Homo sapiens: one gene and its partner. The protein of the gene in region 2 purifies or fractionates together with the protein of the main gene of each other region. This does not show direct contact. Each region holds a gene or a part of one and is shown on either strand. Other genes may lie near its edges.

Evidence for each region. The genes of interacting proteins can lie anywhere in the genome.
Region 1: the proteins of TRMT9B (region 2) and RUFY3 purify together in Homo sapiens (affinity purification with mass spectrometry; 3 studies listed by BioGRID and IntAct, with this or other methods). This does not show direct contact.

The regions. Positions count from the first base shown.
Region 1 is NC_000004.12:70,724,941-70,731,967, reverse strand, and holds part of RUFY3 (protein RUFY3), read right to left. Parts: intron 1-7,027. UniProt on the Homo sapiens protein: ARL8 effector that promotes the coupling of endolysosomes to dynein-dynactin for retrograde transport along microtubules. Acts by binding both GTP-bound ARL8 and dynein-dynactin.
Region 2 is NC_000008.11:12,948,669-12,955,695, reverse strand, and holds part of TRMT9B (probable tRNA methyltransferase 9B), read right to left. Parts: intron 1-7,027. UniProt on the Homo sapiens protein: May modify wobble uridines in specific arginine and glutamic acid tRNAs. Acts as a tumor suppressor by promoting the expression of LIN9.

The DNA.
Region 1 (7,027 bases), on a different chromosome or scaffold from region 2:
GGGCATGAGAATGCTTGGCTAAAAGAATAATGATTACCTGTAGCTACTATTTCAAACAATCCATAATCGTGAACATTACTGCTATCACAAACTGCTTTTCAGGCTAAGTGCGGTGGCTCATGCCTGTAATCCCAGTACTTTCAGAGGCTGAGGCGGGTGATCGCTTGAGCCCAAGAGTTCAAGACCAGCCTGGCCAACATGGCAAAACCCTGTCTGCACTAAAAATACAAAAATTAGCCGGGCATGGTGGTGCACATTTATAGTCCCAGCTACTCAGGAGGCTGAGGCAGGAGAATCACTTGAACCTGGGAGGCAGAGGTTGCAGTGAGCCGAGACTGCGCCACTGCACTCCAGACTGGGCAACAGAACGAAACTCTGTCTCAAAACAAAAACAAAACAAAACTGCTTTTCTTATTGCTTTTGTACATCTGCTTCAGAAAGCTAAATTTAGCATATAGAGGTGTCACTTGCCAGCCAGGTCAGTTTCAGCAGTGTACTATTTTTGCTGTTTGGTAGTATATGCACGATTATGTAAATATTTTCATTTACTTTATAAAAGTGAGTGAAAAGAGGAAAAAGAAAACATGTGGACAAAAAACTCAGTCTCCACTTTAAAAGATGGCAATCACTGGCCAGGCTTGGTGGCTCACGCCTGTAATCCCAGCACTTTGGGAGGCCAAGGTGGACAGATCACCTGAGGTCAAGAGTTCAAGACAAGCCTAGGCCAACATGATGAAACCCCTTCTTTACTAAAGTACAAAAATTAGCCGGGCATGGTGGCGGGCACCTGTAATCCCAGCTACTCAGGAGCCTAAGGCAGGAGAATTGTTTGAACCCAGGAGGCGGAGGTTGCAGTGAGCCGAAATCGCGCAGCTGCACTCCAGCCTGGACAAGAGCGAGACTCCGTCTCAAAAAAAAAAAAAAAAAGATGGCAATCACCAAGCATGTCCCAGCTGGGATGCTTTTGGCCTTATCTGCATGCTGACTGTACTTAAGCTGCCAATGCTGTGTTCAATTGTGTATAAAACTTCTGCAAATATGTCATCAGAGACTGGGAAGAAGACTCCTCTTATTACACGCAGGCCTATTGTTGGACTTACACTCTAGAATTCTGGGACAGGAGTGTTGTGTATGGGTTGAACCATTGGTAGTCTGAGTTTGAATCCTGCCTCTACCGGTTATTACACCCTTGAATGTCAGCTTATTTTACTTTTTTTAATTTTTGAGATGGAGTTTCACTCTTGTCGCCCAGGCTGGAGTGAGTGCGGTGGTGCAATCTCGGCTCACTGCAACCTCTGTCTCCCAGGTTCAAGTGATTCTCCTGCCTCAGTCTCCCAAGTAGTTGGGATTACAGGCACCTGCCACCACGCCCAGCTAATCTTTTTTTTTTTTTTTGTATTTTTAGTACACCATGTTGGCCAGGCTAGTCTTGAACTCCTGACCTCAGGTGATCCACCCGCCTCAGCCTCCCAAAGTGCTGGGATTACAAGTGTGAGCCACCGCGCCTGGCCAAATGTCAGTTTATTTGTAAATTGGGGGTAATAGTTGTACCTAGGCTCAAAAGGTTGTTGTAAAAATTAAATGAGAGAATACATTTTTAACACTTGGAGTAAATAATTCCTAGCGGAAAGTAACTAATCAGGCCAGATGTATATTTTATTGCATTCAACTGATCATCTGTGCATCACCTCTCAATGTCAGACTCCTTATCCCTAAAAGAAGGTTAATAGAAAAGCACATATTTTGGCTGGGTGCAGTGGCTCACGCTTGTAATCCCAGCACTTTGGGAGGCCGAGGCAGGTTCAAGGAGTTCAAGACTAGCCTGGCCAACATGGTGAAAACCTGTCTCTACTAAAAATACAGAAATTAGCCAGAAATGGTGGTGGGTGCCTGTAATCCCAGCTATTTGGGAGGCTGAGGCAGGAGAATCGCTTGAACTGGGGAGGCAGGGGTTGTAGTGAACCAAGATTGCGCCACTGTGTTCCAGCCTGGGTGACAAGAGCGAGACTCCATCTCAAAAAAAAAAAAAAAACGAAAGAAACAAAAATGCATATTCCTGGATAACTGATAACTTGTGGATTTTTAATCAATTATTTTCTTATTTATAGAGGTCCAAGAAAGGACAATGCTAAAACTTGAGTTTAAGCTACTACTAATGTTCATCTTTAGTCTGATAAATAACTTGTTCAGACTACTCTATAAAGATAGATATAAAAATAGAAATATAAAATAAAATGGCAATGTATTGAAGAATCCGGCTTAAACTGCTGTGGCTTCAGCTACTGCTTCATGAATAACTACTAATATAAATAGCTACCATTTATAGGGTGCTTTACATTAAGTATCTCATTTAATCCTCCTAACCTCTGAAGTAGTTACCGTTAATATTCCCAGTTAAGAGGAGAGAAAAACTCAAGCATGATGGCTCACATCTATAATCCTAGCACTTTGGGAGACAGAGGTGGGCAGATCACTTGAGGTCAGGAGTTCGAGACCAGCCTGGCCAACATGGGGAAACCTCGTCTCTACTAAAAATACAAAAAATTAGCTGGGTGTGGTGGTATGCGCCTGTAATCCCAGCTACTCAGGAGGCTGAGGCAGGAGAATTGTGTGAACTCAGGAGGTGGAGGTTGCAGTGAGCTGAGATCGTGCCATTGCACTCCAGTCCAGGTGACACTGTGAGACTCTGTCTCAAAAAAAAACAAAAAAACTCAAGCATGAAGTGATCACTTGTGCAACGTCACATGACTACTGAGTACTGGGTAAGGAACTGAATCCAGGTCCAGGTCCAAGCCACAAAATCCATACTTTTAACCACTATCCTATATTATCTCTAAATTAATGACCATCACAGTAGCTAAAACACGAATTGCCAAATCAACCCCATTATTGTACTAATTCCTTTACTGTTCTCAAATATACCCCATATTGACAGCAATAAAGTTTTCCATTGACTAATTTATCCACCCAACTCTAAAGAGACTCATTAGGTATCCAGCAGATTTCTTCAGTCATTTTGAATTCTGTGTCAAAATTCTACTTAGAAATTTCCAAATCTCAAGGCCTCATTTAAAAAAAAAAAAAAAGAAATATCCAAATCTCCACAACAAATTTCCTTTTGTAATCGGAAAAAAGTCTTATTTAAAAAAATCCAACTTAGCTTCACTTTGAAAAGCACACAAAAATTATTTTAAATTGCGATTTTTAACTTGCCTGCCACTCAAACCATATAAATATCCGAAAAATGATAACAGAGAGTAGGAATGTGGAAGAAAAAAGAAAATAGACCAAAAGCTGGACATTTAGTTTAAGAACAAGGAATTGGACTTAGATCACAAATTATATTTTAAAAAAATCTGTCTGAAACACTTTACAGAGTAAAGGCAGTATATGCAAAATAACATTTTCTTTTTTGAAATATGATACTACTGCTGTCTTTTAGGCTAATTTCAATTCACAGACAGTCCCTGGCTTATGAGGGTTCAACTTCCGATATTTCAACTTTACAACGATGAGAAAGTGATATGTGTTCAGTAGAAACCCTACTTCAAATTTTGAATTTTGATTTTTTCCCGAGCTAGCAATACGCCAGGTGATCCTCTCTCACGATGCTGCGCAGCGGCAGCAAGCCGCAGCTCCCAGTCAGCCACACCATCCTAGTCAGCCACACGATCAGCCACAGATCAGGGTAAACAACCAATACGCTACAGGGTACTGTGCTGCCAGATGATTTTGCGCAACTGTTGGCTAATTTAAGTCTTCTAAGCATGTTTAAGGCAAGAGAGGCTAAGCTACTTAAGCTATTAAGTTCAGTAGAGTAGGTGTGTTAAGTGAATTTTCATTTTATGGTATTTTCAACTTAGGATGAGTTTCTCAGGACATAACCCCATCTTAATTCAAGGGGTATCTGTAGTCACTTGAGACAACAAATGAGTCAGGATTTCATTCTTTAAAAATCCTCTTTAAAGTGTAAAAATTTTTATTAACATATACATTTCTAATTAGGTAAACTTATTAAGGGTAAACGTGTTATAAACTGAGTCATAGCTATAGTTGGTTTTGTTGTTAAACACTCAATAATACTGAAGGTAATACTATCCCTGCCCTTCACGTATGTGGACATGCGTATACATAACATGTATTGGTGAATTTCTTTAAAAAAATCTTTTTTTTTTTTTTTGAGACAGAGTTTCTCTCTTGTTGCCCAGGCTGGAGTGCAGTGGCACGATCTCGGCTCACCGCAACCCCTGCCTCCTGGGTTCAAGCGATTCTCCTGCCTCAGCCTCCCGAGTAGCTGGGATTACAGGCACCCGCCACCACGCCCAGCTAATTTTTTGTAATCCCAGCACTTTGGGAGGGCAAGGTGGGTGGATCGCCTGAGGTCAGGAGTTCAAGACCAGCCTGGCCAACATGGTGAAACCCCGTCTCTACTAAAAATACAAAAATTACCCAGGCGTGGTGGCGTCTGCCTGTAATCCCAGTTACTAGGGAGGCTGAGGCAGGAGAGTCGCTTGAACCTGGGAGGCAGAGGTTTCAGCGAGCTGGGAACTCGCCACTGCACTCCAGCCTGGGCAACAGAGTGAGACTCTGTCTCAAAAAAAAAAAAAAAAAAAGTTATTACTTTCCTGATCCTAGAATTATATGTAACTTGTTTTGAGAATGTTACTCCAAGAAATTCAGATACATATGAGCATGTGACTTAAAAAAAATCGCAAAAATAAAATATACCACTTCATCTCAGTAATAACACCATTTCTGAAATTAATATAATGATGCTTAAAGGTCTAACTGAAGCGTTCTGCTTCCATTCTTGAAAAAAACAGAGAACACATGTTCTCTAAAATTTTCATGGTGCTTTAAAAGTTCCTTTACTTTGAAATTCCACTTACTTCCAACATTGCTTCGGTTAAAAAAAAAAAAAAAAAAAAGGAAAGAAATCCCACTACGCTTTCACAAAGTAAAACAAACAAACAAACAAAAGTCTGAGAGGTTATTTCAATGGTGGTACATGTTTCCCTAAATTAAGAAAATGCAAAATGAATTTTCTATAAACAAGGCTGCTCCTCTAGCACTGACATGGCACAAGCAAAGTAAGAAAGTAAGCCACATTCTCACATCTCTGAATGTCCATTTAAGTCTCACTCCTTTTATCTTCACCCCCGCCTTTCCATGTGAGGATTCCAACTCTTAATGTAAATTAGGGTACAGACTTAAGCCAGGATATGTAATCTGGAAAAGTATAAATCTGATTAATGCTTCTGTGGGGCGGGTAGAAGGCTCAACTGAAAGAGTAATGGGCGGGGCACGGTGGCTCACGCCTGTAATCCCAGCACTCTGGGAAGCTGAGGCGGGCGATCACCTGAGGTCGGGAGTTCGAGACCAGCCTGACCAACATGGAGAAACCCTGTCTCTGCTAAAAATACAAAATTAGCTGGGCGTGGTGGCGCATGCCTGTAATCCCAGCTACTTGGGGAGTCTGGAGAGTCTGAGTTAAGGAGAATTGCTTGAACCTGGGAGGTGGAGGTTGCAGTGAACTGAGATAGCGCCATTGCACTCCAGCCTGGGCAATAAGAGCGAAACTGTCTCAAAAAAAAGAAAAAAAAGAGTGATGGTAGTGCTTTTGTTAGTCACAATCTATTAAGCATCAACAACTCAAATGTTCTCTTCCTTCTATATTCCCTACTGGTAAAGGGAACCTAGCTTCTGCAGCCAGAAGTTGGAGAGTCATCCCAGGCACTGCCTTATGTTCATTCTCCAGCCACCCAGCCCCTCAGTCATCGGGTACATTCTGCTTTTCCAGGGATTGTTCCTTTGGTGTTCACTCTTGCTACCTTAATGTGAGATTGTCATCTCTTACCCAGACCATTTTAAAAGTTATAGTTAGGGGTCCCTGAGAGCTTATATCCTTCTGATCCATTCACTACACTGTTGCCAGAGTGATCATTCCAAACACAAATCTTATTTTATGTTACTCCCAGACATAAAGCACCAGTAGCTTTTCACTACAGAATCAAGTGCAGGCTTTTCAGTATGAATAAGATTTCTACAGTCAAGCCCCTGCTTATCTTTCCAGTCTTGCTCCCTGTTGTGCCAAACAGAAGCCCTCTGTGCTCCTGTTGCTATTCCCTGGCTGGGCCAGCTCACTGTGTACTGTTTGAAATGCCCTCCCTATGTCGGTCTGGTGATCACCTGTTTATCTCTTAAGGTCTCACTTAATGAAGCCTCTCCTGACCCTTCTCCTGTGGAGTCAATCACAGGCTCTTGCCTTTAGGGGAAATCTATTTGCAATTAAACTTGTTGTAGATTTGCTGTTGGCTTTTGAAAATAAGAGTATATAAGCCGGGCATGGTGGCTCACACCTGTAATCCCAGCACTTTGGGAGGTCAAGGAGGGTGTATCACCTGAGGTTGGGAGTTCGAGACCAGCCTGATCAACATGCAAAAACCCCGTCTCTACTAAAAATACAAAAATTAGCTGGGTGTGGTGGCGCATGCCTGTAATCCCAGCTATTTGGGAGGCTGAGGCAGGAGAATCGCTTGAACCCGGTAGGCAGAGTTTTCAGTGAGCCAAGATTGCGCCATTGCACTCCAGCCTGGGCAATAAGAACAAAACTCTGTCTCAAAAAAAAAAAAAAGAGTATATAAGACAAAAGAGAGATAATCCCTCATTGACCACCAATAAGCATTGAGATAATGAAGTGAATGCTTTTATTTTCATTTATTTAAGGGTTAAAGTAGGCAGAAACTCTAGGTCCAGGCCTATACTGCGGACTGCTCAGTGAAGGGCCAGGAACTCTGGTTTTAAGAAAATAAAATATGGAAGCCACAGAGCCTCTATTGCTGAGTACACACAGTCAGTCTACATCATTTTAAGAGGGAACATTATGCTGTTTGCCTATTTTCTTTTGTGGGAGTGAGGAGACTTCACTCTAGGATTTGGGTGGTCAGATGTTTTTCCCTCTGTGAATCAGCCCGGAAAGCAGTCTGAATACTCCCGCGTCCAGACATCAGGAGTTCCATTTTGTGAA
Region 2 (7,027 bases):
ACAGAGAAGAAAGAGAAGGTAGAAATGAGCACATTCGATACAGCAAAATGGGACGTAACACCCCAGAAGAACCATGGAAGTGGCAAAGGTTGTGCCTATTTGACATTCGCAGTTACACCTTTAAGAACAAGAAGTTCATAGGCTGCACCTTGCAGGACTACCCAAATCAGGACTAACAACCCTTTACGGCTTAGGGTTGATGCCGAGACATATTAACAAAGGCTGGGAAATAATGATCGGGACCCCTAGAGAGAAAAGAAGGGAGGATAGGAGGGAACGGGGAAAGGCAAAGAGAATAAAAACACGCATATGTGTGAAGAGGACCATACACCAAACTCCTCAAGTGCCCTCCTTCCCCTACCACCTCATCATCATCTCTAAAAACAACCACAGGTTACTTCTTTAACCTAGCTGAGTCAAAGGCCTGTCTAGGGTGGAGAAGATGCAAGTGTGACAGCCTCTGGCTCCCAAAGGACACTGATTACTAAGAGTACAGCATATTCTATACTCTATGCTATAGGAGTATACTAGCAGTATATTCAGTATACCCAGATGGGGGATTAAACCAGTGACCCAAATATTCAGTTCTAGAGTCTATTAGGCAGCAACCTCTCTGCAGCCTCCAGGAGATGATATTTAGTCAACACACTCCTACTTCTTATTATAAACCCCTCTTTATGACTGCTCACAATGTGCCAACTGTGTACTCAGCATTTACACCTATTCATTTGCTCCCCACAGCCACCTGGGGAGGTGTCATTATCTCCATTTCACAGACAAGGAAATGGCTCAGAGCTGGGCTTTTTAATCCAGGTGATCTAGTTCAAACTCTTAAAATGTCTTCTTTGAGTGGTTAGAAGTTTCTCTGGATGAGAAGTGAGTATCCAAAATGAATGATGTTAACTCTTTTTGAAGATGTCTCAGCTAGGAGTTCTATGCAAGGTACTTTCTTTATGGCATCAAAAGAAGTGAGTCACAAAAGCTGAAGGACATTTAAATGGCCATTTGGCATCACTCTTCAGTCTGTCCTTAAATGAATTCTCCAGTTATCTTAATGCTTTCATGCCATTCTTTTCAGAAGAATTCCTAATTTATCTACGAGTAAAAACATAAGATTGCACAGACAAGCGCTGACAGCCTAATTTCAATAATGCATTATACCAGGGGCTTAATCGCAATGAGAGCTTTCACTCAATTCCTGTTTAAAAACACAAATGAGAACAGTGACATGTAGTAAACAGGCATTTAATTGCATTTTGCTCTCAATATTATGAGCCTGTATAGTGCCAAATATGTCTTGCTTGTGTCTTCTTCAAAGCAATGATAGAGCCTTCTTCATAAATGTGTTTCAAATTTTGGAGACTAGTTCTCTAAAGGAGCATATAAATTCTTTACAAGTGAAATGCATTTAAGCATTCACATATCCGCGTATCAGAAATACTATAAGGTCTGGTCTCTTCTTTACAACCCCTGCAATCTCCAGTAAGATTTCGCTGTCAGAGATACACGTACACAGAGATTTAAGATTTACTGGGAAGATCCCCACTCCCATTGACCTTCCAATTTAAAGTAGAGTTAACCATTCACACAGGGTATTCCCAATTTCACATCACTCTGGTAAGTAAAATTTTATTAAAACCTTTGAACTACCTTGGAACTTTATCCATATTAAGATATACACGCAAAAAGGCACATTTCCAAAGAACATCATTACGGTAATTGAATCTTTCTAGAAACAAAATTTCTTTGGAGTTAGAAAAAGAGTGTATACAGAGCTCTCTTTTCAAATCTGATCAAATGCGTTAATAAAGCAGCAGTTCTTTGGCACAATTTCCTCAGTGACAAGATATGTCCCAACTTCTCAAGGTCTTCTTTAAATAAGTTATAGGTAACCAATGACCATCTGAGAGCCACTTCCACCCTCCCAAGTGATTTTCTTGCTATGAGCAACTCTAAGGCACCACTCACAACACTGGACAGTTCTTTACCCTGTATTCTCAGCCAGCCATCAAAGACAGAGAAAGTTCTAACTCTCCCTTCCCCAAACTTCAAACAAGTTAACCATTCGTTAGCTAAAAGATAAAGGCTTCCAAGGTGGGTGGATCATTTGAGGTCAGGAGTTCAAGACCAGCCTGGCCAACAAGGTGAAATCCCCCTCTCTACTAAAAACACAAAAAAATTAGCTGGGCATGGTGGTTTGCACCTGTAATCCCAGCTACTGGGGAGGCTGAGGCAGGAGAATCGGTTGAACTCGGGAGACGGAAGTTGTATTGAGCCAAGATCGCACCACTGCACCCCAGCCTAGGCGATAGAGTGAGGCTCCATCTCAAACATAAACAAACAAACAAATAAATAATAAAAAATAGAAAGATAAAGGCTTCCATTTGCTGATGTCACATGAATAATAGCAATTTTAATTGCTGAAACAGGGTGAAATGCCAATGGTTAGCTGTATTACCAATAATCTTAACCTGAAAACAATATAGATATATTTTAGCTCTTTCTACACACTAAATTTTCAATGTACATTTAAATTCATGCCTACCACCTAACATAAAGCTCTGCAAGTAGACGTTTACAGCCTTATCTTCTTTCTACATAGAGCATTGTGGGCTCACATCATTTATCACAAAGAACCCAAGTACTATAAAAAGAATCAGCCGGGCCCGGTGGCTCACGCCTGTAATCCCAGCACTTTGGGAGGCCGAGGCAGGCGGATCACGAGGTCAGGAGTTCCAGACCAGCCTGACCAACATGGTGAAACCCCGTCTCTAGTAAAAATACAAAAATTAGCCAGGCATGGTGACGGTTGCCTGTAATCCCAGCTACTCAGAAGACTGACGCAAGGGAATTGCTTGAACCCGGGAGGCGGAGGTTGCAGTGAGCCGAGATCGTGCCATTGCACTCCAGCCTGGGTGACAGAGAGAGACTCCGTCAAACAACAACAAAAAAAACCCCACACATAGCAAGTAATATCATACAAATCCTTACCTTCCTATTTTGGCATTCCTTCTTAAACTGTATTTTCATCGTGAGCTTTGAAAACTTTCTGGCTTCAAGTTATCTTAGTTCTTTGCCTCTTACTAATTAAAAATCAGTTCCCCAGGGAAAGATACACGTGCACTCCATGAAAAAATACGAATCCACTTTAACCCTTAAGGCACTAGACATGTCCTTTATCTCTGAATTCTGATTTATCCAATCTCACACCCAAAGCACATCCCGCAATCCCTTACTGCATGGCTGTCTCGCCTGTTTTGATCGTATTGCAAGGCTGTTTGCAAGGTAAACAGCCACCCCGGGCTACTGGAAAGGCAGGGGACGAGCAGGAACTCACCCAGGCGGCCAGACCCGGGCGCGGGCTCCGGGGCACGCGCTAGACGACCTGTCGCGCCCCCTCCTCCCTGCGGGCGGGCGCCGAGGCAGCGGATCTAGGGCGCAACAGAAGCTTCTCTCCGCTCCCCTATGCAGACCATTGTCAGTGCTCCGGTCGCCGGCGCTTTCCGCACGGTGTGGCGACTGGCAGCAGCTCTCCCGTTGCGAGTAGTCACAGCGCTGTCCCGCAGCCAGGGGCAAAAGCTGCTTTTGCATCAGAGCCGAGGGCTGCACCAGGTGTAACTTCCACCCCTTGACCTATTTTAGAGTGTGAGGATGAAAGGAAGAGGAAAAAATAGACGGAGGGCGCGCGGGGGTGCGGGCGGCAGGGTGCGCGCGTGGCCGTGGGGGAGCGCGCGCGCGGGCCGGGGCTCGTGTCGGGGCTTCCAAAGAGAAGTTGCAGCGAGGCGCCCCCCGGCGTCCGGCGCCTGGGCCCGGTCGGGGGTGCTTCGCTAGCCCTTCTTCCCGCCGCGGCCGCAGGCCAGCTTGGCCCGCCCTACTCCGGCGCCCCGCGCGGGAAGCGCAGCTACCGGGGATCGGGGGCTTTGGGCTGGCCCCGCGACAGCCGTCGGGAGACCGCCCGCGGCCCCCGCCCCCGTCACCGTCCCCGCCTCCCCGGGCCGCCTTCACCTTTCGGGAGGCGGCGCTCGGGCTCAGCTGTCCGGGAACCCAGGCCTGCGGCGCCTCCGGGCAGCGAAGGCGGGCTGGCGCGCGGCGGAGCCGGGGACTGTCGCCTCCCCGCCCCGTTCCCTGCAATCGCCCCGCCCGAACGTGCCCGGGAAGTGAGGCTGGGCCGCGCCCGCCCCGCCGGGGACGGGGTGACCTTCCGGCCTCCAGCCGTGCCCTTGTTGCCTGCCTCTCTCGGCGTGGCCCTTCCTGCGTAGGAGAAGACGCCCCGGCGGGAGCACCTGGTCGGCCCGCAGCGCATCAGCGCAGTACCTTGGGTGACGACGACGCTTGGCTTTAGCGCGGCTCTTCTCACTTAATTTTTTACAGCCCCGGACTTCAGCGGAAATGCCCCCTCGGGGTCGGTTCATTGGGATAACTGGAGATGGGGGGGTTAAGTAGGGTGCCACGGCTTAGACGCTCCAAATCATTCCACTACACAACATGCCTAATCTGCTGAGTTTTGCAAAACGAGCCCCATCAAAAAAGCATCCATCAGAAGGCGGGGTGGAACTTAGAAGTTTTTGCCCAAAACTGGACACAAACCTTTCCTCCCCCCATTGCTTCTATGACAATAGCGTTAACTACTTTCTTCCAGGTCCCTAACGTAATAGTATCTTCAACCGCCTATTATCAAACAACTCCGTTATCATCAGGGATCTATGCACTTTAAAAATGCACGTTCTTAGTGACGAAAAATGAGCACATTTAGTAACCGCTCTGCCGCCCTTTGTATAGAGGTTCGTGCTCCTGATCCCCAGCGTAGGGGGCAGAGTTCATGTCGAGCTGTTGTTTCCAGTTCAGGTTATTTATGGGGACCCAACTACAGGTCTCACATAGACGCTGGTCTATAACAGGTTATTTGTGAGGACACAACTACAGGTCTCACATAGACGCTGGTCTATTTCAGGTGCTACTAAGAGGGCTAATGGACGTCAGCATATAGTTTCTGATTCTGGAATCGTTTTCTAGTGCCACAGTATATTGGGTGGGGTGGAGTGGGGGAAACCTTTGTTTGGGCTTCTCTTTATCCTCATGCCCTGGATAATCAGACTGACATTTTCTTTTTCTGTAAAGGCCTCACATTCAAAAAGAAAGAAAGAAAGAAAGAAAGAAAAAACCACGAGTCTGGTTTTACGTATTCTTGAGCTGAATGCCAGCTACAGAAATGCAGCAGCTCATCCTTGCTTCCATTCACTGGAGCTACAACTACAATATGTCTTCGGACACAGAAGACGTATTGGATACTGTGATGTTCCTTGTCCTCTTCTAACAGTGCATTAGGAGACAAAGCATACCTAAAGTATAGGATAGTGCCTGGCAAATAGTAGGACCTGATAAATACTCGTCCAGTGATTGAAAGACTGTGATAAACAGGAAAGTAACCTACCTTAACTTTTGTAGGAAAACATAAGGGAAATCAGTTATAGGTGACATTGTCAGGGAAGGCATCCTGGAAGTGGTGTCCAATGTCTGATTTAGATATAAAAAATTGGCTAAGGACTAGGTGAGGTGGCTCATGCCTGTTATTCCAGCAGTTTGGGAGGCTGAGGTGGGAGGATCGCTTGAGGCCAGGAGTTTGAGACCAGCTTGGGCAACATAGTGAAACCTCATTTCTGAAAGAAATACAAAACATTAGCTGGGCGTGGTGGTGCATGCCTATGATCCCAGCCATTCAGGAGGTTGAGGCAGGAGGGTCACTTGAGCCCAGAAGCTTGAAGTTGCAGTGAGCTGTGCTTGCACCACTGCATTCCAGCCTGGGTGACAGAGAACCTATCTCAAAATAAGTAAATAAATAAATAGAATTAACTAGGGAGTGGAAGTGAGAAAGTATATTTGATATGCTTTCAAGACATAATAGAGGCAGAGATTCTTAACCTTTTGTAGGTAATAGGCCCCTATGAAAATGTTGATAGAAGCTTTGAAACCCCCTTATATAATAAACAAATGTAAAATATTTGCATTTGTTTTCTGAAAGTTCACTGACGGCTTGAAGCAGACATGTAGAATCCCTAGAGACTTGTGAACTATGACATGAGTTACCAACTTCTTTCTTGTTTGGAGGCAGGTAGAAAAATAAAGAGATTTTTCTAGTTGAGGCCATCATAAGCGGCATTTCAGTGACCACCAGTAGAATTTGGGTAATGGTTGTGGGAAAGGAAAGAAAAATGTACTGTAAAGAAAATTTGTACACCAGAGAAACATAGCTAGACTTTTAAGCCATTTATGTTATTTTTGTACCAGAGAATTTCACTTTCACATCTCAGCAAAAAGGAGGAAAGGATAAAAAATGACTGTCAAAATATTGACAGTTGCTGATGCTGGGTGTACACATGGGGGTTTATTGCATTATTTTCTCATTATTTGTGAGGTTTAACGTTTTTCAGTTTTTTAAAATTTCAGTGGATTTTTACTCTCGGTAGTCATAACCAATCCTATGGCATTTCCTAACTTGAGTTCTTAGAATGGAGATTTTTGTATATAAAAAAAGAAAGAAAGAAAAGAAAAAGAAAACAATACAAACAGGCCAGTGATGCCACACATAAGATTGTTATTAATAAGTAGAGTCTATGTAGAAACAATACGTTTTCTCTGAGGAAGAATTATAAAGTGTGTTGGCCATAGTCTCAACAGAAATTAGACAACTATGAAACGTTGAACACGTGTTTTTCTGGTTTTTTGTTTGTTTGTTTTTGAAACGGAGTCTTGCCCTGTCACCCAGGCTGGAGTGCAGTGGTGCGATCTCGGCTCACTGCAAGCTCCGCCTCCCAGGTTCACGCCATTCTCCTGCCTCAGCCTCCCAAGTAGCGGGGACTACAGGCGCCTGCCACCATGCCCGGCTAAGTTTTTGTATTTTTAGTAGAGATGAGGTTTCACCGTGTTAGCCAGAATGGTCTCGATCTCCTGACCTCGTGATCCACCCGCCTTGGCCTCCCAAAGTGCTGGGATTACAGGCATGAGCCACCGTGCCTGGCCTTCTGTTTTT